Linked DNA regions of Homo sapiens. The protein of the gene in region 3 purifies or fractionates together with the protein of the main gene of each other region. This does not show direct contact. Each region holds a gene or a part of one and is shown on either strand. Other genes may lie near its edges. The genes, in order: VWA8, NES, NEFM and GAN.

Evidence for each region.
Region 1: the proteins of NEFM (region 3) and VWA8 purify together in Homo sapiens (co-immunoprecipitation; 2 studies listed by BioGRID and IntAct, with this or other methods). This does not show direct contact.
Region 2: the proteins of NEFM (region 3) and NES purify together in Homo sapiens (co-immunoprecipitation; 3 studies listed by BioGRID and IntAct, with this or other methods). This does not show direct contact.
Region 4: the proteins of NEFM (region 3) and GAN purify together in Homo sapiens (affinity purification with mass spectrometry; 3 studies listed by BioGRID and IntAct, with this or other methods). This does not show direct contact.

Annotation. Positions count from the first base shown.
Region 1 is NC_000013.11:41,880,855-41,888,192, forward strand, and holds part of VWA8 (von Willebrand factor A domain-containing protein 8 isoform a precursor), read right to left. Parts: intron 6,508-7,338; coding exon 6,343-6,507; intron 5,977-6,342; coding exon 5,927-5,976; intron 5,175-5,926; coding exon 5,066-5,174; intron 2,638-5,065; coding exon 2,533-2,637; intron 1-2,532. UniProt on the Homo sapiens protein: Exhibits ATPase activity in vitro.
Region 2 is NC_000001.11:156,668,263-156,674,407, forward strand, and holds the end of NES (nestin), read right to left. Parts: intron 5,266-6,145; coding exon 5,192-5,265; intron 4,944-5,191; coding exon 1,060-4,943; 3' UTR 501-1,059; downstream 1-500. UniProt on the Homo sapiens protein: Required for brain and eye development.
Region 3 is NC_000008.11:24,908,941-24,917,007, forward strand, and holds the start of NEFM (neurofilament medium polypeptide), read left to right. Parts: upstream 1-4,820; 5' UTR 4,821-4,853; coding exon 4,854-5,933; intron 5,934-6,046; exon of another isoform or gene 6,047-6,357; intron 6,358-6,664; coding exon 6,665-6,789; intron 6,790-8,067. UniProt on the Homo sapiens protein: Neurofilaments usually contain three intermediate filament proteins: NEFL, NEFM, and NEFH which are involved in the maintenance of neuronal caliber.
Region 4 is NC_000016.10:81,310,522-81,318,187, reverse strand, and holds the start of GAN (gigaxonin), read right to left. Parts: upstream 3,227-7,666; 5' UTR 3,075-3,226; coding exon 2,908-3,074; intron 1-2,907. UniProt on the Homo sapiens protein: Probable cytoskeletal component that directly or indirectly plays an important role in neurofilament architecture.

The DNA.
Region 1 (7,338 bases), on a different chromosome or scaffold from region 3:
TTTGGAGGGAGATATTCAGAGATTATGTCAATACCCTGTGTCTCATAGAGGCTCCACCTGCCAGCTTTAACATCCTTTGATGACTCCTGTCTAAATTAACTGCCACTCTGATGGTTGCCAAATGGTGTTTTTTCTATTTATGTAATTCCTTCTAGATTCACAAGTAGGCATTTTACACTTTAAAAGAGAACTCCCATCTCCATATTTTTTGTTCATTTCTATCAGTATGGACTCATGGATTCCTATTTTATGTAACAGGTTAAAACCAATTACCATCATCATTTATTTTTATGCTCAAATTGTCCCAGATTTCAGCCACTTCAACCTGGGAACTCCATCATTTTGACATATCGACATCATTTGTTGAATATTTCCTTACTCTCTGGCACAAAAAGATGGTCCAGGCTCATCTTCTGCATTCCCTGACCTAATCCTTTTAGAGAGCATGGTATTTAGAAACCAATGTCCAGGTACTTGGTATGATCACTGCTACTAGAACATCATAGTTTTTTTTTGCCGGGGGGGGGGGGGGGGGGGTAAGGTCACAGATCAACAGGATAAGAATTTTTCTTAGTACAGAACAAAATGAAAAGTCTCCCATGTCTACCTCTTTCTACACAGACACGGCAACCATCCGATTTCTCAATCTTTTCCCCACCTTTCCCCCCTTCTGTTCCACAAAACCGCCATTGTCATCATGGCCCGTTCTCAATGAGCTGTTGGGTACACCTCCCAGACGGGGTGGTGGCCAGGCAGAGGGGCTCCTCACTTCCCAGTAGGGGCGGCTGGGCAGAGGGCTCCTCACTTCCCAGTAGGGGCGGCCGGGCAGAGGCGCCCCTCACCTCCCGGACGGGGCGGCTGGCCGGGCTGGGGGCTGACCCCCCCACCTCCCTCCTGGACGGGGCGACTGGCTGGGCAGAGGAGCTCCTCACTTCCCAGTAGGGGCGGCCGGGCAGAGGTGCCCCTCACCTCCCGGACGGGGCGGCTGGCCGGGCGGGGGGCTGACCCCCCCACCTCCCTCCCGGACGGGGCGGCTGGCCTGGCGGGGGCTGACCCCCACCTCCCTCCCGGACGGGGTGGCTGCTGGGCGGAGACGCTCCTCACTTCCCAGACAGGGTGACTGCCGGGACGGAGGGGCTCCTCACTTCTCAGATGGGGCGGCTTCCGGGCGGAGGGGCTCCTCACTTCTCAGACGGGCGGTTGCCAGGCGGAGGGTCTCCTCACTTCTCAGACGGGGCGGCCGGGCAGAGACGCTCCTCACCTCCCAGACGGGGTCGCGGCCGGGTGGAGGTGCTCCTCACATCCCAGACGGGGCGGCAGGGCAGAGGCTCTCCCCACATCTCAGACGATGGGCGGCCGGGCAGAGACGCTCCTCACTTCCTAGATGGGATGGCGACCGGGAAGAGGCGCTCGTCACTTCCTAGATGGGATGGCGGCCGGGCAGAGACGCTCCTCACTTTCCAGACTGGGCAGCCAGGCAGAGGGGCTCCTCACGTCCCAGACGACGGGCGGCCAGGCAGAGACGCTCCTCACTTCCCAGACGGGGTGGCGGCCAGGCAGAGGCTGCAATCTCGGCACTTTGGGAGGCCAAGGCAGGCAGCTGGGAGGTGGAGGTTGTAGCGAGCCGAGATCACACCACTGCACTCCAGCCTGGGCACCATTGAGCACTGAGTGAACCAGACTCCGTCTGCAATCCCAGCACCCCGGGAGGCCAAGGCTGGCGGATCACTCGCGGTTAGGAGCTGGAGACCAGCCCGGCCAACACAGCGAAACCCCGTCTCCACCAAAAAAATACGAAAACCAGTCAGGCGTGGCGTCGCGCGCCTGCAATCGCAGGCACTCGGCAGGCTGAGGCAGGAGAATCAGGCAGGGAGGTTGCAGTGAGCCGAGATGGCAGCAGTACAGTCCAGCTTCGGCTGGGCATCAGAGGGAGACCGTGGAAAGAGAGGGAGAGGGAGACCGTGGGGAGAGGGAGAGGGAGAGGGAGAGCAATCCTATTTTTTTAACTAAATATGAGAACATCATAGTTTTTAGGCTGCCTTAGGAGACAGCTAGAAAATATGTGTATGTATACATATACACATACTATCTCTATCTATTTGTTCATATATATTGTTTAAAAAAAGTCATGATTCATAATAACACCAATTCCAATCCAATACCTTAGAGTTTTTTCTTGCCTTCCCCCTTTCCATGGTTATAAATCCCTCATCCAACAGTGAGAAGCATAACTCTTATTATCCTTAATATATTCATTCATTTGCTCAATCTATTTACTTATTTGCTCAACATAACCAATCTCCCAATCACACCAGCCCCTGTGTGTTTGCTGCCCTATTTATCACAGCTGTCTTCTTGTTGGAATGCTGATACCTCCATGCCTGGTAAAGAATGGAGGGGAAGGGAAAGGAAAGAAATAAGGATGGGGAGAGAAAAATAGGAAAGGTGGGGAAAGGAGTGAGGGGAAGATGGGAAAAGGCAAGGGAAGGGAAAATGGGAAAAGAAAGGAAAGAAAGGGAAGCAGACACTCACCTTTAAAACACCTTCCACAGCCATCTTCCCTTCATGACCTAGTAAAATACTATATGGATAAAGCCACTGGATTGCATGTTTGATTGGCATCATAGGAAAGGAATCCTATGTAGGAGCAAAAATACATAGGAATGAGCAAAATTCAAAATAATCACAGAAAACATCTGAAATGTACATATGACATTAAAATTGACTTATAAAAGTAACCAATAGGTGTCTGGTATTTTCTGTAAGTCTACAAAAGCAAATATTCATTATTTTCTCTTCTCATTCCTTGCCCTTTCTCTGGGTAAGCTTACCCATTCCCATCTTTCATTTATCTTCTATGTATTGATGGCTCCCACACTTCTATGTCTGGTCTTGACTTCTTTCTTGAGCTCTAAACCTGAACCCTCAATTGTTCATTACATGTGACTATATGAATATCCCATAGACCCCCATTTGAAACAGAATACATGTCTCTACCTTATTCATCCCAAAGTACCTGATCCCTTTTTATTCCTAAGTTAATCTCATCCACATTCACTTAGCTTCACAGTTATAACTACAAAATTAGAAAGTATTCATTATCCTCAAATCCTTCCTCACATTATCTGCACTGTCAATTCTGTTCACCCCACTTTAAAAGTCTGTTGACAAGAAAGATTAGTGAAATTTCAATATGAACTATCTATTAGATGATACTATGGATTACTGTTAACATGATATGAAGTGTGATAATGTTGTTCTGGTTATGTAGAAGAATGTCCTAATTCTTAGAAGTTGCATACTGATATGGTTTGGCTGTGTCCCCACCCAAATCTCATCTTGAATTGTAGCTCCCACAATCCCCACGTGTCATGGGAGGGACCCAGTGGGAGACAACTGAATCATGGAGGCAGTTAACCTCCATGCTGTTCTCATGATAGTGAGTTCTCATGAGATCTGATGGCTTTATAAAGGGCTTTTCCCCTCCTTCACTCTGCACTTTTCTCTCCTGCCACCATGTGAAGGACGTGTTTGCTTCCTCTTCCACCACGATTGTAAGTTTCCTGAGGCCTCCATAGCCTTGCAGAACTGTGAGTCAATTAAACCTCTTTTCTTTATAAATTACCCAGTCTCAGGTATTTCTTCATAGCAGCGGGAGAACGAACTGATACACACACTGAAGTATTTAAGAGTACTGACTGCAATTTACTTCCAAATGGTTCAGGAAAAAAAAAAAGAAAAAAGCACATGCAAACAAATGTGGCAATATATTAATAATGGGTGATTGTAGGTGAGGGGATTATGAATGTTTTACTGTTTTTCAACTTTTTTTTACATTTGAGAATTTTCAAAGTAAAATGTTCTAAGCAAAAACAAAAGATTTCATAAGAATTTTCAAAATAAAATGTTCTAAGCAAAAACAAAAAGATTTGATAAAAGTATAAGATTTGATAAACAGGAGGAGAAATTCTGTTCTGGATGTATAGAACAATGTCAACAATACCTAGGCTCCCTGACTCACATGAAACATACATATATACATACATACATACATACATACATACATACATACATACATACAAGTTTAAAAATAAGTCTCTTGCCTAAGATAGTATTCCCACTATCTTGGATGGTGCCCTCCTCCACAGGGTCTCACTGAGTGTTACAAAAGCTTCCTAGTCATTCCCTCACTTCCAACAAAGGTGTCTTCCTCCAACATAAGTCTGGTCACATTCATAGCCCACCAACTTAATATTGTCTGATAAGCCACTTTTTCCATATCATAAAATCCAGGAAACTTCATTCATCATGCAAAACATTTCACAATAGCGGTCTGACTTCTCCCTCTACCACACACACTTGCTTTAGGGATACAACTTATTCTCATTCTCCAAAGATACTAGGCCCTTTTGTGATTAAACACATTTGCCTGTGCTTTGACTTCCTGGGCCTTTTATCACTCCAGACATGACCGCCATGCCCTTTGTGAAACTGTAGTGGACAATGTCTGTACTCTATCAGATCCCCTCAGATCTGTTTGCATTCTCTCTTGTGCCTCCTAGCTTTCTCTTCCAACAGCAATTGCTGTAGGTCTTTCTAAGAAGACGATCCTTGGGCTCTTGAAGCCACCCTTGCACACATGCTGGGAGAGCAGTTAGTGTCTGGGAATTTGTGTCCCCTGAGACAACCATGACACAGAGACTGATGGAAGCTAGAACAGTGTGAAAGCCCTAGCTCCCCTAACTCAGGTAAGGACAGCTCTGAGGCCTAACTCACACTGCAGCACACCTCTTACTTGATCAGGCTAAAGCCTTCCTTCCCTCTGTAGAACTTTACTGAGATTGCATGTCTAGCTCCTACTCCAAAGCTGAAAGCTCTTTAGGGGCTCAGAACATGTCCTTGGTCTCTGTACAGTTTACTGCACTGCACAACAAATTAATCTCAGGCCTTACAATATTTATAGAAGAGTATGACAAAAGCAAACTGAAGTCATTAATCCCTAATGATTAACTTTCAAAATTTTTAACATATTTGGGTATGCCAGTCATTAATTTATTTTACTTACCAAGATTTGAACCGCAGCTGCTAAACTATCTAAAGGAAAGTCTGGAAGTCCAAGAGTAGAAGATTCTTGGGAACACAGAGTTGTGGCAAAGGACAAGAGCTGAGAAACTCTAAGGGAAAAATGATATTAAATTTTAATAGTTTTAAAATATAAAATGTGTAAGTTGTTAAATATAAAATACAGGGGCCAATTTAATTAATCTAAAAAAGATCCCTAATATTAATTCTTAAGGAACAATGGTTCCGCATCATAATATCCTACTTAAAACTCAGAAGCTGATTAGATGCAAATATATTCCTAAATTCATCACAATATTTGAGGTTTTTCACCACCTGGTCCAAATCTACCCTGCCAGCCTCATCTCTCACATTTCGTAATCCCAAACCTAAACTCTAGCCTCCAAGAGTTTTTTATGGCCCTAAAAACAAGGCATAAACTCTCACATTCCATGCTTTTAAAACAAACAAACAAACAAAACAAAAAAAAAACACTTGTTGTGTTCGAATTTCTTGATTCCACTCTCTATCTGGCAAAAACTTGCTCATTATTTAGGACCCATTTCAAACACCAATGCTTTTATGAAGCCCTTATAAAGTCTCAACTAATGCCCCCAAATATTTTCAAATTATGGCACTTACTATACCATGTTAACCAAAGCTATTCACATATCTTTCAACTCTATTAGATCTTGAGTTTCCTGCCAAAGATATCTTATTAATTTTATCACCAAACATCCTAATACTGAAAAATTCTTATAAGAATTCTAGTTGTTGAATGACTGAATTAATTAATCAATCAATCAATGAACAGGCAAAACAAATTCAATATTCAGTGTCCAGACATTTATAAAAATATACTTACTTCTCAGCAGAAACATTGGCTCCAATTGAATATAACAACTTAAGTTGGTCCTAAAGTAATACAGAAACATATTAAATTAATTAACAAGAAATGTAACAGATTAAATGCAAATGTTTTGTAGATACAATCCAACCTTTTAATTAAGCAGACACTAAATATTTAACAGCAAAAAATCATTTATTGATACATTTCATTTTCTAAAAGAAAAGCCAGCCTTTTAAAAAAAATCCTTCAAATAATGCCATAATAATTTTTCTTCCTAGTTTCCAGAGCTTTTCTTTACTCTTTATTCTCATATCTTTCCATGACCTACTCAGGAAGACATTCAAAACTGCAGTAACATTTTTATAGCATTGAAGTTCTTGTTATAAATAGAAAAACTGTTTAACAAATAAATTATCCTTGGTCTTACTTACCTTGAAGGGTAAATAATAAATATCCCTGGCTTGAAATCGAGAACGAAGAGGGGGGTCTAATGGATTCCCAGAATACCTTGGCACTGGCAAGCCCAAGGCAATCACTCGGAAATTTTCACTAACTCGGACAATTTTCCAAGAATCCAACTCTTTTTTGGTATGATCCTATAAAAGTAAGAGATCCGGAAGCTATAGCATAAATGATACAAATCACAACTGTAAGAGCTGCCAAGTCCAGGGACTTAGGACTTGACTGTTGAGAAAACTGTATTGGAGAACACTCTCAAATCCATACTGTCAAGGAAGGCAGCAAAGTGAAATCAGGTTCAGGATGCCAGGGCAGGCTCACAACATGAAGACTGGGGTGTTTGAAAGGAAAAGCAGTTAACACACCAAGGAATAAAGGAGACTTGGGTCAGATCTCCAAGCCTTAGTCAGTAACACAGAGGAAAACAGTCAGGGGGTAAGGAAAATACATGACTAGAGGTTGTAACAAAGGTAGTCCCCGACGGGCAGATCACCAGCAAAGCTGTGATTGATTACCAGTGGACCTTAAATAGATAATTATGTTTATGGTTATTCCTAGCAAAGCATATTACTAGCAATAACTAACATGTTTTGGAAACTTACTATGTGGTAAGCACATTCCATGGATTTTTCTCATTTAACTTTCACCAGAATCCAATATAGACTATCTCCTTTTTATATGAATGAATGAATCAAAGTTCAAAGGAGTTATATAACTTGCCCATCGTCCTGCAACTAGCATACAGTGGAGCTTAGAGAATGGAAACAGTATGGGTTTTAGAGTCACAAATCCTGGCTCAACTGCTTGATGTACACTTTTACTAAATGTTAGCGTATGCATGGTATTATACCTTTGGAACCTTAGCCTTCTTAGTAGGAAAAATATCACCTACATTATTGTGACTGCTAGGAAAACTAAATGTGTAAATGTATGTGCAAACAAGTGGCCCAAAGGAGGCACCTGTTAAA
Region 2 (6,145 bases), on a different chromosome or scaffold from region 3:
TGCTGACCTGAGGCCATGCAGCCAGACTGAGGAAGAACAGGCCTGCCTCTTCCCTCACCCTGCTCCCACCCAGTCAGGCTGAGGAGATCAGGCCAGACAACTTGTTTGGGTTTAGAGACAAGGGGGCTTATTATGCTGGCGGCACCAAGGCACTAATGGGGGGGGGTATACAAGGGTGGGGGTGGCCCCAAGGCCTAATCCCTGTAATCAGTACTGTGGGCAGAGATGATGATGGGCCTGGCTTCTGCAGGCGCTGAGGTCACCTGGACTGGCCTCCCCCAGCCAAGCAACAGCCCCTGGCCCTCCCCAGGCCCCAGCACTGCTCCCTGCAGCTTGGGTCTGTCTGCCCTCATCCCCCCAGGTCCTCCTCTCCTCAGGAGGCAGCCCCTCCCCAGCACCAGCTTCCTCCTCTCCCCCGCCACCCCCCGCCCGCCCCCGCCATCTCTCTCCTGTACTAACCCTGAGGGTCCCCTCTGAGTGGGGGAAAGAAGAGTCCAGACTTTGAAGCGGAGGCATTACTTTATTCAGGCAGGGACTAGCCAGGCAGGGCCACAGCGTGGCAGGGATGGGGGGAGTCAGCACATGGGAGTGCCGTCACCTCCATTAGCCACAGGCCAGACGGCCCAGGAGGGCGTGCTACTGCAGTGAGATGGTGCACTACTGCAGTGAGGTGGCGCAGGGCTGGTGAGCTTGGGCACAAAAGCCAGCATGTCACCCTCCCTTTGGAGAAGCCTCTGGGCCACAGGCCTTTTCCAGCTGACGGGATGCGGAGGGAAGGGGACCTAGTACTATCGGGATTCAGCTGACTTAGCCTATGAGATGGAGCAGGCAAGAGATTCCCTTTGCAGGGTGGGAGGTTATATTCCTACAGCCTCCATTCTTGGAGTAGGCTCCTTTGCCACACCCCTTTTCACCTTAGCGGGCCAGGCCTCTCAGCCAGAAACCATATGTCAAGAGATCGTAAGTTAAGAGTGCTGCTCCTGAGCAGGGAGCGGGCTTGGAGGCGTCCTTCCCCTCCCCGCACCCCTAAGTCCCCAGTGCCGGGCAGATGGTCTTTTCCTAGTCCTCCCCTGAGGACCAGGACTCTCTATCTCCTTCCCTCTGAGTGAACTTCAGGAACTGACCCTGGCCCAGGTGAACAGGAGCCCCTGCCCAAGAGGTCTTCAGAGCACTCCCCTCCTCCTCCTGAAAGGGGCTCCCTCGGTCTCCCTCAGAGACTAGCGGCATTCCTTGCCCCACTTCCTCAGACTGCTCCAGCCCGTTCATCACTCCCCCATTCACATGCTGTGACTTCCCCTCCAAGTTGGGACCCTGGCCATTAACACCAATGATGTCTGCCCCTGGGCCTGCATCCTCCATCCCACTGGGGATCTCTAGAGGGCCAGGGACTTTGTCCTCCCTCTCCAAGGAAACAGGGTCAGACTCTTCCTCTGAGCCAGAAGGCTCAGCACTGTCCTGGGACTCCGTTTCCAGGGCAGTCTTGGGGGCACCAGCCACTGCACCCCTCAAGCTGTCATCCCAGGGGACACTGACACTCACAGAATCAGACTCCAGGAATTCCCCTCTCTGGGAGCTACTCAGGGCCTGGAGGCTGCCAACAGAAGACCCTGGCCCCCACCGCCCAGCCCCTGGCTCCCTCCCCTCCTCCTGATCCTCCTCTCCCTCCTCCCCACTTTCTTCCTCATCTGCAAACCCATCGGACTCCCCATCTCGATCCCAGGCTGCAGGATCCAGTAGCAGCTGGGGCACCTGGCCCAGAGGTTCTGCCACCTCCCCAGGGACCCCAGGAAGAAAAGGTGCCTCAGTCCCCAGGTCCTCAAATTCTTCTGACAGGTCAGAGTCACGGCCACACTCCTCTTCTCCCTCCTCCCCCTCCTCCTTTTCTGAGGGTGGGGCCTCAAGGCCCTCGGAAGCCAGGACAGCAGGATCCCAGCCCTCCTTTCCAGTCTCCCCTTGAGGGGGTGGCCTCTGCTCTCCAGTGGGGTCCCACCTGGGGGAGGTGGGGGACCTGAGGTAGAAGCCCAGGGGAGTGGAGTCTGGAAGGGTCTCCCCGAGCTCATCCTCCTCGCTCTCTTCTCTGCTCTCCTCCCCTTCCTCCTGGGGGCCCTCGGGGATCTCCCCAGAACCCAACTCCTCCTGCTCGCTCTCTACTTTCCCCAGGGCTTCAGCCCTCCCCTGCACCCCCCAGCTAGCCTCCTGACTCCCTTCAGCCTGAGGCTGAGGCCCAGGGGCATCTTCCAGGATCGGGGTGTACGTTGGGCTGGGGGAGACCAGCACTGGTGGTACATCCTCCTCAGCTTCCTCTGACCCCAGAGGCCAAGGTGAAGGGGCATCACTTCCAGTGTGGCCCAGGGTCTCAGCAGGGAACGCCTCCTCTGCTCCCCTGGGGGCCTCAGCCTCTGACTCCTCCCTACCCTCCCTGGGAGGCTCCCAAGGGTCTCTGCTCTTCCCAGGCAGCTCGGAGAACTCTGTCCCCAGACCACCTGCCTCCTCTAGGTCCTTTCTAGGCCCTTCCAAGCCCTGAACCCTCTTTGCCTCCAAACTCTCCTCTTCCAGGGGTGGTTCCATCACCTCTTCCCTGGTCAGATGGCCTGGGTCCCCCAGCCCTCCCACCCCCTGCCCCGGGCCTGGCTCAGCTCCCGCAGCAGACTCACCCATGGCAGGCTCTGACCCCAACATGACCTCTGGGGAGGCTTGGTCACCCCCTGGGGCCACATCATCTTCCACCAGGGGCTCTATCGCCTCTGGCAGCCCCTGGGGAGCCTGGAGGCCTGGGGCCCCCACCTGTTGTGATTGCCCTTCAGGGTCCTGGAGGCCCTCAGCCCCTCCCTTCACACTGGCTCCCTCAACCAGGCCTCTCTGCTCTTTGGGCTCAGGGCTCTCTGGGTGCCCCTCGCCTGGGATCCAGACCTCCTCTGTGGCATTCAGCTCTCCCTGCTCTACCACCTCCTCCTTCCCAGTGAAGCCATCCTGCTCCCTCAGATTCAGCTCTGCCTCATCCTCATTTTCCACTCCAGCCATCCCAGGAGGGCTTTCCTGAGCCAGTTCTTGGTCCTTCTCCACCGTATCTTCCCACCTCTGCACATCTGCAGACTGCGGCAGCTCCTGTCCCTCCTCCTCCAGAGACCTCAGTGACTCTTGGTACTCTCCCTTTCCCAGGTTCTCTTCCTCTTCCAGATTCCTTTGACTTTCCTTGTCTACCTCCTCTGGAGATCTCAAATTCTCCAGGTTCCATGCTCCCAGAGATCTCAATGATTCCTGATTCTCCTCTTCCAGGAGTCTGAATGTCTCTTGGTTCACTTCCACAGACTCCAGTGGTTCTTGAATTTCCTTTTCTAGAGGATTCATTGCCCCCTGATTTATTTCTTCTGGAGTCCACAGTGGTGCTTGAGTTTCTGGAGATTTCAGTGTTTCCAGGTTCTCTTGTCCCGCAGACTTCAGTGATTCTAGGATCTCTGTTTCTAAAGATTTTACTGCCTCTACGCTCTCTTCTTTGAGTGACTTTAAGAACTCTTGATTCTCATTTTCAAGAGGTCTAGCTATCTCCTGGTCAAGAGACTTCAGTGGTTCTAGATCCACTTTTTCTGGGGGTCTTAATGTCATCTGATCCTGTTCCCCTAGAGACCTCCGTCGCTGTTGAGTCTCTTTTTCAAGAGTTCTCAATGTCTCTTGGTCCTGTTCTTCTAAAGACCTCAGTGATTTGTGATTCTCTGTTTCTAGAGGTCTCACAATACTCTGGTCCTCTTCTTCTAGAGTCTTCAGTGGCTCCTGGTTCTCTTTTTCTAGAGATCTAAAGGCCTCTTTGTTCTCATCTTCAAGAGACCTCAGGGGTTCCTGATTCTCCTTTGTCAGAGGTCTCAGTGCCTCCTCATCCCCTACTTCTGGAGATCTCAGTGGCTCTTGATTCTCCTTTTCCAGAGCTGTCAATGACTCTAAGTTCTCTTGCAGAGAACTTACTAATTCTTGATTTTCCGTTCCTGGAAATAAAAATGTCTCTAGATTACCTTCAAGAGATTTCATTAGTTCTTGATTCTCCTTTTGCAGGGATTGCAATGTCTGTGTGTCCTCTTTTCCTGTAGGCTTAAGTTGGCCTACAGCCTCTTTTTCTAGAGGTCTCACTACCTCCACATCCTTTAATAGCTCTTTATTTTCCTTTTCTAGACTTTTTAGTGTTTCTAAGTCTTCTTCTAAAGACCTCGGACATTCTTGATTCTCCCTTTCTAGTGTCTCATGGCTCTGGTTTTCCAGAGTCTTCAGTGACTCTTGAATCTCCTCTCCCAGAGACTTCAGGGTTTCTTTTTCCAAAGGAACCTGGGAGTCCTGGATTTCCTTCCTGTTTAGATCCTCTTCTTCCCATATTTCCTGCTGCAAGCTGCTTACCACTTTGCCCTCTATGGCTGTTTCTTTCTCTACCAACCCCCAGATTTGCCCTTCACCTTCCCCTCGGCATATGCTGAACACTCTAGACCCACCGGATTCTCCATCCTTAGCCTCTAAACTGGAGTGGTCAGGGCTGAGGGGTGGTGCCAAGGAGGCATGGTCCTCTGGGGACTGGCCTGTACTGGCCTCTTGCCGCTGGCCCCCAGGCTCCTCTGGTCCAGGCAGGACGCTGGCAGGAATGGCCACCCTGGCTTCAGCCCGCAGGGGCTCTGGAGCCTGTTTCCTCCCACCCTGTGTCTGGAGCAGAGAGAGAGGAGCATCCTGGGCTCTGATCTCTGCATCTACAGCAGGAGAGGGTGCCTGAGGTGTGGGGGGGATGGGGGTGCTGGCCAAGGTAGGGGTACGGGCCTGGAGGAATTCTTGGTTCTTAAGAAAGGCTGGCACAGGTGTCTCAAGGGTAGCAGGCAAGGGTGAGGGGAGGGAAGTTGGGCTCAGGACTGGGAGCAAAGATCCAAGACGCCGGCCCTCTGGGGTCCTAGGGAATTGCAGCTCCAGCTTGGGGTCTGGAAAGGCAGAGGGGGAAGAAACAGCATCAGTATATCACTGGCAATGAGGGGAGCCACAGAGCAGCCACCGCTGGCAAGAGTATCCATGCGCCTGCCCCTGGCGCCCATGGCTGGGCTGAGAGCATGCTCACTGACACTGGAGGCCACGGACTTGAAATTTAGATTGGTGCCTCTCGGGAAAGATAGGTCTGGGTATGAAGAGCAAAGCAGGGTAGTTTCTGGGGGAACTTGGCCCCTCCTCTTACCCTGAAAGCTGAGGGAAGTCTTGGAGCCACCGCCAGGTGTTTGCAGCCGGGAGTTCTCAGCCTCCAGGAGGGTCCTGGAGAGGACAGAGGGAAAGTGGGGTCAGCCCTCTGCCCCCAGGCCTGCAGGCAGCAAGCCAGCTGGGGACAACTCAGGCTGAGCTTGCACCATCCAGGCCCTGCAGGCTTCCTCTTCATTTGACACTGTCACACAAAAGCCACACTCAGGGTGAAATCACACAGTCACATACCCACAGACATCACACACTTGGTCACACAAAGTCACACTGTATTTGGGATACACAGCAGAGCTCAGACATAGAAGCAGATTCCCACACAGTCGGACATTGCCCTACACACACCCACACAAGGCTTAGGCTAGCCTCCTCCTCCCACCCCAGGCCAATGACCTCATCCTCTGTGTGGGGGACCGATTCTCATGCTAATTGCTGCCATTGTCCAAGCCACCATCTGGAGGGTCTGAGAAGGAGAGGATTCTGGGGAAGTGGGAATTCTCAGGCCGTTCCCATGGGATGGGCTCCCTCCTCCTTCCCCGGTGGCCCCCAGAGCTAGCGACAGACAAAAGCAAATGAATTCAGCTCCCCCTCTCCAAATCCTTTTCATGCCTCAAAAAATAGCAGTTAAATTCCTCGGGGCCCACCAGACCCTTCCCCTTGGTGGCTTCACTGGGGGTCAGGGCCCTCATCTCAGGATCTCTAAGCACTCTGGATCCCAAGCTCTTCGGGGCACAGAGGTCTTTGTGTCCAGGCCCCTTCCTCAGCGCCCCTTGAACCAAAGAGGGGAGCAGGGACCAATCAATTCAATAACTTAGGATGAGCAGCTGCTCCTCTCTGCTTTGCTCCATGATCTCTGAGTCTGGTTAGCACTCGCTGTAGCCTCACCTCTGTCCTTGCCAGTGCTGCGGCCTTCCTTCTGGGCTTCTCTTCCCTGGCGGTG
Region 3 (8,067 bases):
AAGCTAAGTGACAAGACAGAGCTATGACAGTGAGCCCATTTTCAAAGGATTATGAAAGAATATTGATTTTCAAATTTGCAGAGATTGAAAAAAAATCACCCAGTCCTGGGACAATGAGACTGAATTATTAGGTGGGGCTTCTTTGTGACTTTCTGTTCCCAGGTTTAGCTCTTTTCAGAAATTTGGTCCAAAGATCATTGATCTGCTCTAGTTTTACGAAGCTCATTTTAATTAAGAGTTTCTAATAAAAGAATTATGTCTCTTGCTAAGTCAGGCCTTGGTAAGCTTGGGATAAAATATGTCATAAATATTTCATAGCTGCACTGGTGCAGTTACGTGCAAGGCAGGGTTTTCAAAATTCAAGTGCATATCATCAACATCTGTTGCTGCTTTATAGGTAAAGCTAATGGGTTCAGTTAAAAACATGCTGAAAATTAATACAGGAGTACTCTTTTATTATGCATCTACTGAACTTTATTTTTAGAGTCACTTTTACCAAGGCTCTATTAAGTACTTTTTTAAAATTCTAAATCTTTCTCCCCTGGCTTTCACAGAAAGGATTCACAGTGGAGAGGTGAAAGCATTACACAGCAAAAAAATCAGCAAGCTATGTTAAAGCCAAAAGCTAAATTTTCCCCCACCACACACATGAAATTTCCAGATATAGAATTTTAAAACTGATTAATTTAACATTTGGAATATAATAAAGATTAAATGTTTTAAGTTTTGTAAATACTTCAATTAACTTCATCATAACAGTAACTGACAAATAGAAGGCAATATTCAAAGAATAAAATATTTGGCAAGGGAAACAAACACCATTTCAGTGGCCTAATGACAGAAAAGGAACACTGTGGTCTAGATGGATTTGTTTTGATCAAAGACAATAGGGACATACATATACATCCCAATTTCCCTGACAAGAAACAGTCTTTCTCCCCTGAGAATATTTTTATTTTGCTTTCAACTCTTGACAACAACAAAATCAAAAGTCAACACTGCTTTTAAAGTTTGACATCCTGAGGATCAAGTAGAAATATGTAATATAGCTTCCTTTTTCTTGTGTTCCTGCTTCGGCAGACTAAGTCCCTAGCTTCCTACATCAACAACCCCTTAAACAATTAGCAGAGGACAGGTTATAAATAATTATTATGAGTTCTAGAACCAGATCCCAGGCAAACGGATTAAGTTCAAGACACAATAGGTTGAAAGAAAGTACAGATCATCTCATCTTGGATGGATTCAGCCTACCAATTTGAAAGTGACGTTGTCCATCTGGAGTATCTTTCTTGCTATCCAGTTCCTACATCCCATCCTCCTTGCATTTTTTTATATCCAAAAATGCTATTTAAAAGAAGAAATGTAAGGAAATAGGGAAAGATGGGAGAAAATGCCTAACTCCTTATTTTTTATCTTTATTTTATGACCCAGTAAATATACCACCTTTGCAAATGATATTTTCCCAGTATTAGATGACACCCTACAAAACCTGACAGTGGCTATCATCTCTTAGCTGCAAAGTTAACATTTTCACTTTCCCTACTGAAGGAACATATAGATTGGAGCATGCCTTGTATTTCTCTATAAAGTGATTCAAAACAGACTGTAGCTTATGAAACAACAATTCAGAGATAATTTCATTTAAAATGTCTTACATCTAAATCATATGAGAAACTTTTCTATTTAGAATAAATTACAAAAGTATCGTAGTCAAACTTAATTCCATGAATGCAGTGTGGTTAATCCGGGTGAGTTGCCATGATTGTTTTCTCTCTTTTTAATATTTTGAGAAGATTTCATAGCCTTAGTGTTCTTAGGGTTTAAAAAAATGCAAAAGCATTTCTTTCTGTGAAAACTATTAAGATGGTAAATATTCTTCAAAACTATGAGACAAAAAGGGAAAAACATCTTTTATAGCTTTTTAAAAAAAGTTTTCATACTAAATTTACTGATGGGTATAACCTTCAAATCACCTTTAGGAAGAGTAGTTAAAGTGGAAGAGTTTAATATAAAAGAAAACATTTTGCTAAATGTGAAACTGGATCCATCATTTTTTAAGCCATGGGAACTGTTTTTTCTTAATAAAACAACTGTTTTAATTCTTTGCATTATCCTGTAGTGCCCAGATTGAACAATATATCATGTGACATTGAAGTTACAATTTTAAGTTATAGGCACTAGATGTAGCCTGAGTAACTGACTTATTTTGTTTGTACGCAACACTTTCCTCCTTCTGTAACCAGCTGGAAGCTGAACAATTTCTCAGCTACTTCAGATACAAGGCAAAACTGGGTAATTGTGAAGTTAGACATGTGTTTCCTTGTAAATGTCTCTCTGCAGAGTCATCTCGTTTCCAAAGCCCTAAAGAAAATTAACAGCAGAAGGCTGCCGGTTAACCATGTACTCTCATTGCAGAGTTTGCAGTGAATGTGCACCATGAAATTGCCAAGGATTTTTATATATTTCAATAAAAGCAGAAAGTAATAAGCAACAAAGGCAAAATTACTGCATAATTAGCATTTGGCCTTATCTAGATGGTATCCTGCTGAGTCCAGCCTGACATCCGCAATACTTTACAGAAGGCAGGGAATTTTCTTTCTCCTTGCCTTTATTTATCTACATAAAACCAGAAAATCCTGTTTTTACAGTATTCACAAGTCAGTCCCCTCATTCCATCATCTGTCTCTCTCAACAACTCAAGACATGGATGGGCTCTGCTTGCCTAAGGTCTCTCAGCAAACTAGAACATCCTTCTCCTACATGGCCTGCGATACTGCAGTTTCATATTAATAAACCAAAGTAACTCCCAAAATTAGCACCTCCTGTTTAAAACATTATTTCTATTTTAATACAGATGGGCCAAGGGAGCTGATAAAAATAAAAAATAAAACCTCTAGAAACCCACCCCTTTCCTGATTACTTACTGATGAATATGATCCTGTCTTTTAATAAAACAGGGACTTAAGGAAACATGCTGTGAAAAGAAGCTATTTCGGTCTGGAGTCCCTACTTTTTATAAGCAGTAGTTTCTTCTCACCCATAGCAAGCGTTGCACATTCAGTCACTTGTACCTGTGGCCCCAGCGCTGTTGTTAGTTCTGCAATCTCTTCTTCACTTTATCTTGTAGTATTCTGAACTTTTTTAACCTGAATTACCCCCAAAGCACTACCCAAAATAAAGGGACATTTTAACAGGAGTACACCAGACAGCAAGAAGTCTGTGTAGAGTTCTTGTTTGCATAAACATGTTTAATGATATAGAAAATCTATTCCAAATCAATCATTAAAATCTAAAGCGAAAAATATATTACATTTTAAATGAAGGGAAAACATCTGATTTTATTCAAGGTTGTGGTGACTCTGTTCCGCAACTTTTAAATCAATTTAAAGTTAATTCAGATGCCTTTTCAATCATTGCAGTTACACATAGGGAATACTGAACCGAAAGATGACAAGGCAATTGTCTGTGTCCAAACTTAAGAAAAACTATATTTCCCTGGACTTTTCATCCCAACAGATTTCAAATTCTCCTTTCCAAGGAGTATTTGACCTTCACATTTCAGGCCCTGTATCTCTTCATTTCCTATACCACCATATGTTAGAAAACTCAAACTGGGCTACAAGTATATATTTCTGTTAACTGACTTTAATGAATTTTGGTTGTTTTCAAAATCTGCGATCTGTCCATTGTGCCAACCCTGCATTGCAGGGAAGTCTTAGCCTGTGATTCCAGCTTCGCTCCTGCAAAGATAGTCACTACAGGCAGGTTTAAATTGTATTTACTCGGAGAGAAGAGGGGGAAGGGAACCCCCTGCCCCCTGCCAACCTGACAGGCCAGGCTGGGTGACAAGCCCCCCGGGTGGCTGCACCTCCCACTCGCCGACCTGGGCGCTGTCCTTGGTGCTGCCGGCGCCATAGCGAGCACAAGCGCCTTACCTTCTGCCCCTGCGGAAGCTGCGGACGTCCCCCAAACGTTAAAAACGCCATATCCCACTTTTTATACAAATAACTACCCCGGCCTGTTCTCTTTGTCCCCTTCCCGAAGCCTTCAGGCAGACCGTTCCGCAAAGTCTTTTTTTTTGTTTTGTTTTGTCTTCTAGACCCAGCTCCTCGGCGCTCATCTCCAGCTGCTTTAAGACAAGGGGTGGGGGAAGGGGAGGGAGGCAAGAAAAGATGAGGGTGGGGGAGGGGAAAAGAGGGAATGCAAGGGGAAGGAGGGAGGAGACGGGGAGAAGGAAAGATTGGAAGAAAAGGATCTCCGAGGAAGGGGCTGAGAGAAGGGCAGGGTGAACTGGACTAAAGGCCAGAGTAGGAAGGAGAAGAGGGGCCAAAAAAGAAGGGGATGAAATTAAGCACAGAAGATGGGTAAAGAAAAAAGTATCAGGGAAAGGGCAAAATAAGAGAAAGCCTTGAGGATAAGAGGGTAGAAGGCTAAAGAACAAGGGGACCACGGGGTCGGGGAAGCGCTGCCTGAACGGCGGGACAGTGACAAAGAAAGGGCGCTGGCGATATTCGCACCAAGGGTGCGAAACGCAATCGGGAGGTGAGAAATGGAAAGAAGGCGAATGCCCGGCTACAAGTAGCCTGGGACTGAAAGGGGACCTGGGGGAGGGGCTGGGCCCAGGGCAGAAAAGTCCAGGTTCCCATGCGGCCTGGGCCCACGTGGAGCGGGCGCTGAATCACCGTTCAGCCGCCCCCCTCCCCTCCTCCCCGACCGGTGCCCGCAGTCCCCGCCTCCTCGGCCGCCGCCTCCACGGGGCGGGGCCCTGGCCCGGGACCAGCGCCGCGGCTATAAATGGGCTGCGGCGAGGCCGGCAGAACGCTGTGACAGCCACACGCCCCAAGGCCTCCAAGATGAGCTACACGTTGGACTCGCTGGGCAACCCGTCCGCCTACCGGCGGGTAACCGAGACCCGCTCGAGCTTCAGCCGCGTCAGCGGCTCCCCGTCCAGTGGCTTCCGCTCGCAGTCGTGGTCCCGCGGCTCGCCCAGCACCGTGTCCTCCTCCTATAAGCGCAGCATGCTCGCCCCGCGCCTCGCTTACAGCTCGGCCATGCTCAGCTCCGCCGAGAGCAGCCTTGACTTCAGCCAGTCCTCGTCCCTGCTCAACGGCGGCTCCGGACCCGGCGGCGACTACAAGCTGTCCCGCTCCAACGAGAAGGAGCAGCTGCAGGGGCTGAACGACCGCTTTGCCGGCTACATAGAGAAGGTGCACTACCTGGAGCAGCAGAATAAGGAGATTGAGGCGGAGATCCAGGCGCTGCGGCAGAAGCAGGCCTCGCACGCCCAGCTGGGCGACGCGTACGACCAGGAGATCCGCGAGCTGCGCGCCACCCTGGAGATGGTGAACCACGAGAAGGCTCAGGTGCAGCTGGACTCGGACCACCTGGAGGAAGACATCCACCGGCTCAAGGAGCGCTTTGAGGAGGAGGCGCGGTTGCGCGACGACACTGAGGCGGCCATCCGCGCGCTGCGCAAAGACATCGAGGAGGCGTCGCTGGTCAAGGTGGAGCTGGACAAGAAGGTGCAGTCGCTGCAGGATGAGGTGGCCTTCCTGCGGAGCAACCACGAGGAGGAGGTGGCCGACCTTCTGGCCCAGATCCAGGCATCGCACATCACGGTGGAGCGCAAAGACTACCTGAAGACAGACATCTCGACGGCGCTGAAGGAAATCCGCTCCCAGCTCGAAAGCCACTCAGACCAGAATATGCACCAGGCCGAAGAGTGGTTCAAATGCCGCTACGCCAAGCTCACCGAGGCGGCCGAGCAGAACAAGGAGGCCATCCGCTCCGCCAAGGAAGAGATCGCCGAGTACCGGCGCCAGCTGCAGTCCAAGAGCATCGAGCTAGAGTCGGTGCGCGGCACCAAGGAGTCCCTGGAGCGGCAGCTCAGCGACATCGAGGAGCGCCACAACCACGACCTCAGCAGCTACCAGGTAGGAACCGCGGCTGCGCGGCCAGCCTGCGCCAGCGCCAGCGCCGCGCGCCCCCGACACTTGGGCTCGTGCCCAGGCGCCCTCTCCGCCGCGCTCCCTGGTGGCCGCTCGCTAGAGCACGCGCGCCGCAGACCTAGGGTATTTGCGGATCAGCGTCCTCGCCCATCTCATCCTCCACACTCCGCCCCCACCCACCTGCCCCAGCTGCTAAGGGTCTTGACCTTTTTCAGAAACGTGCATCTTTTCCAGTTCTAATTTTGCACGCTTGCACGTTTAAAGCAGGAGGGATGAATTCGGTAGTGGATAAATCAGCAACTTTAGGATAGCTTATGCAGAAACGCGTGTATTCTCTACTTTTCCGGCAGTGATCGGAAGAGCTCTCAAAATTGGCTTCAGCCCAAAGGGCTCAGATGGGAATGGCCAGGTCAGCCATGGAGTTTCCCCATGCATGTTTGTGTCCTGTTGAGACGTGTTCTAAGTCCACTGGTCTCCGTGCGTGATGTGCCCAGGAAGTGTCCTATTGTCTTACTGATCTTGTATGTTCATTTGAGAATCGCTTAGATTTAAAAGAAAAAGGGGGTGGGACGGGGGGCTGGGAGTCAGGTGTCAGCGAGGTTTGCAGAAGTGGAGGGAGACGGGAGGAGGCCAGGGGGAAGGGGTAGCAAGTGGTTTGCGAAGGAAGTTGCTGTTTGCAAGGATGAGTCTGGGGAGATTCTCTGTGTCTGTTTCAGGACACCATCCAGCAGCTGGAAAATGAGCTTCGGGGCACAAAGTGGGAAATGGCTCGTCATTTGCGCGAATACCAGGACCTCCTCAACGTCAAGATGGCTCTGGATATAGAAATCGCTGCGTACAGGTACGATGCTTACTACGTGCGTGGCCGGAACACTAACCGCAGTGCAGAGGCTGTTCCGGCAGAGCTTCCACCACTTAAGTTAAAGCAGGCAGGGTGCAGGCATCAACTCAGCACCTGGTTATCTTGCTTACTTAAAAAGAAATTATTCTAAAGAATTGCAAGTGTAGTTTTATCTCTTTTTATGCAGCTTTAAAAGAATGAATACTAGTAGAAACAAAAGGTTTTTGAATTACACAAAGGAGGTGCAGATTAATCTCAATGCACATGCTTAAACTTTTTATGGAAAAATGTTTTCAAATGCTGGAAGCATGAACAGAGTTTTGGTTTCTAATATTTCATCTAGTGGTTTCAGCTTTTCAAATGTATAATGTCAAGGACAAACACCAGGACGTTCTATTTCTCTGTTTCTCTGTTATATAGCTTACTATTGCCATCATCTGGCTGAGAATAGATATAGAATGATAGAATATAGATATAGTTCTTTTATATATGTAGATAATTTATATGTATTATATTTTATGCTAGACTGTAGTATAAATTATATCAATATATCATGTATGATATTAATCTAGATCTATAGATACACATATGTGCATATGCATATAAATCTAGATATATAGACACAAATATATATGATCGTTTTATAGATAGTGAGATAGGTTATAGGTCTATTAACTGAAGTGACCTTGCTGTTGACTAAGCGCAAAGGACAAAATCGTTGATTAAAATTTTTCTGCTACCAATAAGGTAGTTATAATATAACGAGAATAAATTGCATTTACAGAGCTATCTCTCTTTTCAGGAAAGCTGAATAACTACATTAAATAGACACTTTATGATAAAAATTATCAACAAATTTATAACTCGATACACCTGAAAATCTAAACGTTTAAGAAAGTGACTACTCTCAGAAAGGCTGTTTGGCTTTGGAGTTTGGGGGCGTTTTGTTTATGGCTTTTTGTTTTTTTGTTTTTGTTTTTGTTTTTTGCTATTTGGCCACTAACAAGTTTTTCAGCATATTCATGTTGTACCTAATGGATCTCTACTGCAGGGCCAAGACTTAGTAGCTGGGTGTGGTTAGTGGACTATTGGGCAAGGTTAGTCATTGTAGGGGGCAACTGTCTGGCAGTCCAGGAGAATCTTTCTCTGTCACTGAGTATAATGTAATATGCCAGTAAGTGATAGCAGGTATTATAGTGAATTCATAGAATATTCTACTTATGTAATTCTATTTATTCAAAGGTAGCTACCACAATACCCAGAATGTAATGAAGCTCA
Region 4 (7,666 bases), on a different chromosome or scaffold from region 3:
ATCAAGTTCTAGAATACATAAATATATTTTGTTTCAATATAATTCTCTAAAGTGCTATTCAAACAAACAAGTACATTATAAAAGCCCAATATTATTGGTATTAAAATTACCAGTAAAAATACAAAATTAACAAATTTCTTTCTAGTTAGTGATACAGATTCGTCAAATTACTTTGAAACAGCTTCGGAATTGATAATTTTTAAAAACATCCCAAGACATTCTATCACTTCAATAGCCAAATAAACTTAAAGCAATTCATCTGTCACTGATGAAACACATATTGACTGATTCATGTTTATCCACAAAACATAAAAAAAAAAAATCTGCCTTCTCTTTAAAGATGATTGAAAATGGAAACCAAAATGACACAGTATGTAAAAGTGCTTGATAAACATTTTAATTCTAAGATATTGTAAGCCAGCTAACAGTAAAGTTTACACAAAGAGAACGGTGAAATACAAGTAATGCTCTAACGTGGTAGGGCAAGAGTAGGAAGGCGGTTAGCCGTAATTAATTTGGAGTCTAATCCTAGTTCAACCATTAAGTACTAATAACCTCATAACACAAGTCACTAATGTCCACTGAGCCCCTATTTTCTTATTTAGAAAGTGAAAGAACCGGACTACAGATATTTCCTAATTCAATGGGTACTACCTTTGAAGACATGGGAACAGACCTATGAGGTGTCAACACTATTACGTATTTCTTCACAGGTGTGATTAAATGAGAAGACTCATTTTTATCCCTCATTCATCAGATTAGTGAGCTGAAGCCTTGTCATCTACCAGCAACTCACAGCTAATATGAGTAAAAGCTGGAAGCACAAAGCGGGTCTTCAAACTCTGAATCCAGTGCGTTTCTCAATTAGGTATAACTGAGCGTCTGTGTACTATGAAAATGTGATGGTGCCAATTTTCTAATGTACACATTTGCTGTGGTAGAAAGAAAGGCAGTCATTCATTCAATACATTAACTGATAGGCACAGTTCTTTCTGGGTGCAAAGAGTAAAGCAGTGAATAAAAGAAAACACCGCCGGGTGCCACGGCTCACGCCTGTAATCCCAGCACTTTGGGAGGCCGAGGTGGGCGGATCACGAGGTGAGGAGTTCGAGACCAGCCTGGCCAACATGGTAAAACCCCGACTCTACTAAAAATACAAAAATTATCCGGGCGTGGTGGCGGGCGTTTGTAATCCCAGCTACTCGGGAGGCTGAGGCAGGAGAATCGCTTGAAACTGGAAGGCGGAGGTTGCAGTGGGCCGAGATCACGCCACTGCACTCTAGCCTGGGCTAAAGAGTGAAACTCAGTCTCGAAAAACAAAACAAAACACCACGACCTCATTGAGGTCACACTGTGGTTGGGAAAGACCACCAAAGTAAATGTGTAAAATATGGGGTACGTCAAAGTGGTAAGTGCTATGGAGAAAAACGAACAAGGATAACAAGCAAGGATTCGGCAATTTGCAATTTACTTCTTTTAAGCCAAACGGATGCCATTTAAAGAACTATAACAATAATGCATCTAAAGTAGTTTTCTTCAGCATTTTCCCAAACAGGGAAGACTTTGGTCTGCTGACTCCAATTTGGGATGGGTTGCTCAAACCTCGGAACTGCCAGCTAGAAGCTGTCTGTCACATTAGCAATCCAAATTCTGTACTAACGATGCTACCCCAGACCCTACTGCCGCCCCGCCCCCCCACCCCTCCACACTCCCCACCGCCAAAGAGCGCAAATGGATTCACAAAACAAATCCAAGAGAAACCAGAAGTTACAAGGGCACTTGAATTTCTTCTAAGTTTAGCACAGATATCTCCCCAATGCAAAGGTTAAAAGTGTAGCGTGCGTGGTGGTTTTGCTGGGACAAAGCGCTAAGAATACACATCATTTTGCTTTTTCTGACCTGTCAATTGTAGTGATATTCTCTACCACTAGCTTATATTTAACCAGCTTACTGGTCAGTTTCTCCAGTTTTTAGCATTCCCCCCTTTCCTTTTATTAAAACAGCAACCTAGTTTGCAAGAAGGTTGCTAAAAGAAAAGATAGTCTCCTGCAAGATCTGATACACTTGTATAAGCACTGTCTTATCAACCTTTTAATTAACCTGGTTAGTTGAGTTGGCAAATCAGGTTAAGCTTTGCTTTACTAAAGTATTAAAATGCCCTTTGTCGCAAGGCTCTCACGGTCCTCGGGTTGTAACAGCATCCTGAGAATTCGCTACAGTTTACTTCAACGTGTAACTCCTCTTTTAAACAGTTACCAGAATGGAGCGGAAAAGACACGTTTGGCAAGGAGAATTTCGCCCGGAGGTTCGGACTACCAACCCAAGGAGAACATCGAGAGGGTTTTCTCTGCCTGCACCCAGCGAGGCGCTGTCTGTCTGGCCTCCCAGCGGGCAGGGCGCTCCCCGCCTGGTTGGCGGCGCCGGCCCAGCCCCCGCGCGTGGATTCAGAGGCGAGCGACTGGCGAACTTCAGCGGGGACCGCGGGCCCGGCCTGGGCGAGGGGGTGACTCTTCCCCGGCGCGGCCTCGCCCAGCCCGCAGGTGCGGGTCCCGGCCGGCCCAGGACGGCGTCTGGGGGCCTCAGGGTCTCCGAGGTCGGGCGCTCGCCGCGGCGGTGGGAACCGGGAGGGACAAGGCGGGGGATCGCGGCCCGGGTCCGGGGACAACTCCAAGGGGCGCGGGGGTCCAGTGGGGAGCGCGGGCCTGGAAGCCACAGAGGCCGCCTGGGGGACGCGGTCAGCGGGGCCGGGTTCCGGCGCTTGCCGGGAGGGACGCCGCGCCAACGGTGACGCGGGGACCCCGGCGCCGGGGACAGGGGACAGGGTCTGGGGGCCACGCCCGGCCCGGCCGCCCCGCCTCCGGCTCCGGGCAGCACCGCCGCGCCCGCCCGCCGTAGCCCCCTCCCCACCTGATGTACGGGCTGGCCGCCGCCAGGATGTTCTTCTGCACCGGGATCTCCTCCCCGTCGAGGACCAGGTGCGCGTCGCAGAAGCGAGACTCCTCGCGGAAAGAGCTGAGCGCTCGCAGCAGACGCGCGGCGTGCTGAGGGTCAGACACGGCACTGCCCTCAGCCATCGCGGCGCCCGCTCCTCTGCCGACGGGTCCGGCTCCCGACACCGTCCGGCCGGACCCCTCGAGCGGCCCGAGTCCTGCGCGCGCGCCCGCCCGGCCCGGCTCTCCGCGCTCTGAGCAGAAGCTGGAGCCCCCGGGACGTGCCTGTGCTATCCGCGGCGCGCTGGGCCGGCGCCTTTAAGAAGCCGCGTCATGAAGTCATTTCTCCGCGACGCCCCCGCACCGTCGCTCCCCGCCTTCTCGCCTCCGCTGCTGGAGATGGCCAATCAGAAGCCTCCTTCCTCCGCCCGCCTGACCAGCTGCGGCTGGGTGCAGCGGAAGGTGTCTACGGATGAGATAGGTCGCTCCCGCGATGGAGGGATGTGCGGGCGGGCTAGGATTCCGTGGTTAAGCCTGTGGCCTCTGGAGCCGCGAGTTTGAATCCTGGTTGCAGCTGTTCCACTTACTAGCTCTGTGGCCATGGGTAAGGTGCCCATCCTCAGTTTCTCCGTCTGCAAAATGAAAGCGAATTCTTAGTGTTGTTGTGGACTCATGAGATGATGCATGGAAGCAAGGGCGAAGTCGCTGTAGCTTTCTTTATTTATGAGAGAAAAGGAGCTGCCCAGGTGAGAGGACAAAAACCCGAGAAAACAGACCCGGAAAAGATGGTTTTGGTTGCGGGCTAGGAAGGAGATGTAGCAGATGAAGCTGGAGAAGTCCGAAGGAGGCCTTAAATTTTGCAGGGCCTCCTTGGTGTGGGAAGGAGTTTGGTTTCTGCAGTGGTGAAGAACCATGGAAGTACCGTATTTAGCAGGGGATTTTGTGCAGGTCACTCAGCTCCTGCGTGGAGAATAAGGCGGGGATGGATGTGCTAAAGGCAGATCGATGCTTAGGTATTGCAGGACTAGAGAGAAGGGAATGGGCACCTGGATGAAAGGGTGATGCGGGGGCGGGGGTAGACAATAGTGGATTGTTTTAAAAGAAATTGTGAGGGAGAGGGAGTTAAGGATAAATATTCTGTTTGAGTAACTGCATGCATGTTTGCACCTTTCAGGGAGAGCTAGGAAATGCTGAAGGGGTGGGCAGTAGAGAGGCAGATGTTTAGATTCAGACAGGCTCCCAACCCAGTGAAGATCAAAGCTGTGATAGAAAGGATCGCTGGGTCAGCTCAGCTGGCAGGCCAAGCCCCACGGTATCTGAAGTTTCCCTGGAGGTTGCTCAGGGCACATGGGAGTGTGGAATGTAGCAACCATTTTGTGCAAACGTTAGGGACTCCATAAGCCTCTAAAAAATTAGCAATTGTATGAGGACTCCGGACCAGAAGAATGTGGCTAGCATTCCAGGCAAGACAGGATGGAATTTTCACTGTCCTTCAACCAACTGAAAGGCTCCAATAAAGTCTTGGGTATTTACCCTGAACCAGCCAAGGCTTTGGAGTCACTGGCAGGAATCCGAGTATCTAACTGTTTTCAGGGCAGAATAGATGGGGAGGGTACGGCTGTGGAAGACACATGCATTTCCACTTTCTTCTGTAAATGCAGCTCAGTGTTCCCGGATGCAATGATAAAGATGTCTAGGATTTGCTTCAAAACAAAACAAAGGGATGGGGAAGCAGATGGGAGTGTAGATGAGTCAAAAGTGGCCGCAAGTTACTAATTGTTAAAGCCACGTAATGGGGATGTGGAGATTCGTTGTACTGTCTCTATATTGTTGTGGATGTTTAATGGGGATGTGGAGATTCATTGTACTGTTTCTATATTTTTGTGGATGTTGAAAAATATTTTCTTCTTTCTTTTTTTTTTTTGAGATGGAGTCTCCCTCTATTGCCCAGGCTGGAGTGCAGTTGTGCAATCTCTGTTCACTGCAACCTCCGCCTCCCGGGTTCAAGTGGTTCTCCTGCCTCAGCCTCCCAAGTAGCTGGGACTACAGGCATGTGCCACCATGCCTGGCTAACTTTTGCATCTTTAGTAGAGATGGGGTTTTACCATGTTGGCCAGGCTGGTATCGAACTCCTGACCTTGTGATCCGCCCACCTTGGCTTCCCAAAGTACTGGAATTACAGGCATAAGCCACCACACCCGGCCGAAAAATATATTTAAAAAGGTAAGAAACACACAAGACAAGCAGCTTGGACTTATCTTCTCCATGATACCTACCCAGTATCCCTGTGAGCAGCTGACATTCCTTTCTCCAAGCAGTTGCTGTATTTTGAACATTGCTCGAGCAAGAAACTTTTTATAATGGGTTTATTTATCCATGTCACCTGCTATACTATGTTTATTGTAGCTCAGCATGATTTCCAGGTACCAAGCACAGTACTTGGTGCGTAATAGTGCTAACTGAATGTTGGATGGATGGAGGGATTAAAAAAAAGAAAAACACCTGAATATCAGACACTTAATAAATGTTTCTTGGGAGGCCGAGATGGGCGGATCACGAGGTCAGAAGTTCGAGACCAGCCTGGCCAACATGGTAAAACGCCGTCTCTACTAAAAATACAAAAATTAGCTAGGTGTGGTGGCAGGCACCTGTAATCCCCACTGCTCAGGAGGCTGAGGCAGGAGAATCACTTGAGCCCGGGAGGCAGAGGTTGCAGTGAGCCGAGATCACGCCATTGCACTCCAGCCTGGGTGACAGAGCAAGACTCTGTCTCAAAAAAAATAAAAAATAAAATAAATAAATGTTTTCTGAACTGTATTCTCTATCTGTTCTTAGTTAATTTGTGTTTGCCATTTTTAAAGTCAAAAACCAGGGAGAGTTCTCTACACAATGTAAATATTTGATAAGTACTTATTAATTGCTTATTGTGCTAGTCTATTCTTTAAATATCAGAGGTTCCAAAACAAAGAGCTCCAATAGTAGGATCACAGTCAGGTAACCAATTATCCGAGTAGGAAGGTTGCCTTAGTTGAAGTAACTGGAGGTGAATGGGGATTTGTCAGGCAGGCTCTTCCAGATAAAGGTGAACCTTCCCTGTTGTTTTGATAGAAGGAGGAAATGGAATGACCATCAAGAGAAAGGTAGTTGCTGGCTTGAGAGGATCATCTGTGCAACAGGCAGCTAAGCAGAAGAAGACTTTATATATATTTTTAATACCACCCACACTGTTGCTAGTATTCCCCACCACTCCATTGGCCTGGTGAACTCTTATTCATCCTTCAAAACCCAGCTTAACCATGGCCTTCAGGAAATCTTGAGCTGGCTTCCCAGGACAGAGTGGGTCAGTCCTCTGCATGCTCCTGCTGCTGTGCTGTACTCACCATACTGTACTGTAATTTACTGGTTTGTAAGTCATTTCCACTGCTGGGTTGTGAGCTCCTCCAAGGCAGGGGCTTTGCCTTATCTGCCTATGTTCCCAGGACTTACACAGTGCCTGATGTGTAGTAGGTACCCCATGAATGTTTTACATAATTAGCAGGAGCGTATCAGGTAAATTAGCAAAGCAAACTGTGGGATGTGGGATGTCAGACAATAGGAGTAGGTGGGCTTATGGGAGCTGAAGAGCACATGCTCCTCAGCTCTGATTGATTGCTCTGTGCGATAGGGGCCCAGTGGTGGTGGATCTAACAACTTTTTAAGAGATTCTGACAATTCAGACTTTACATGTTGAATATTCCGGATTTTCAACATTAGCAACTAATTCCATTTGGAGGAAAAAATGTAGCATGGGTCTACAGACAAGATCTGGCTGTAATTCATGTTCAGAGGTAATCAGGAAACGATTAGTTTACTGAAAATGTAGTCGACAATCAAATGGCTGCTAGGTTGCCAATAAAATGTGTTGAGTGGAATTCACATGCCCCAGAAAGCTCCTCCTGGTGCTGTGGGCAAGGAAGAGGGCCCAAGTGTGGGAAGAAGGATTCAGGAGGCAGAGCCAACTCTCCCAGTGCTGCCGGAGCCACTCTTGCTTGAGCTGAAGTACTGTGGACTGTTTTGCAGCCTTCTTGATATTGCTCAAACTGAGCCACCCTTGATATTGTGCCTATCAGAATGATGGATTAAATGTTATTGTTTCCTTATATTCCATAGGCATCAGATATCAACTGTCATTGTGAAACATATTACAATGTAAGAGATTTGATATTGTCCTAACAGCTTTAGTCTCTGGTGGCTTTACTGAGCTCTTCTGGTTTAGAGGTGAAACAACCCAGAGAAAGGATTTATTTATGTATTCGTTTTTGGTCTGAAGACCAAAAAGGATGTTTGCAAGATATTAACAGTAATCATTCATTCAACAACTGTTTTTAAAGCACCTGCTGTACGATACCTGCTACAGATACAGTGATGGTGAAAGTATAGTTGTCTCAGTGTTATTATAGAAGCTTTTACTCTGTATTTTCCTCGATTTCTATTTTCTGTACTGATCATGCATAATTTTTTACAATCATTAAAAAAACAAGAAAGCAATGTCTTTTTGCAAAAAGGGAAAAAAAAGCTTTCTTTTGCTTTGAAAAATGTGCCCTCAAGAGAGGAATCCACTTGGGGGGTTGGGCTTTTATTTCCTAAAAACTACTTAGAGAGTCCAGTAAGAGAAATAATGCAAAGAAAATATTAACAGTTTGAAAATTCTTTAGCAAATATCAAGTCCAACGGATTTATCTTATTGAAGAGAAAAC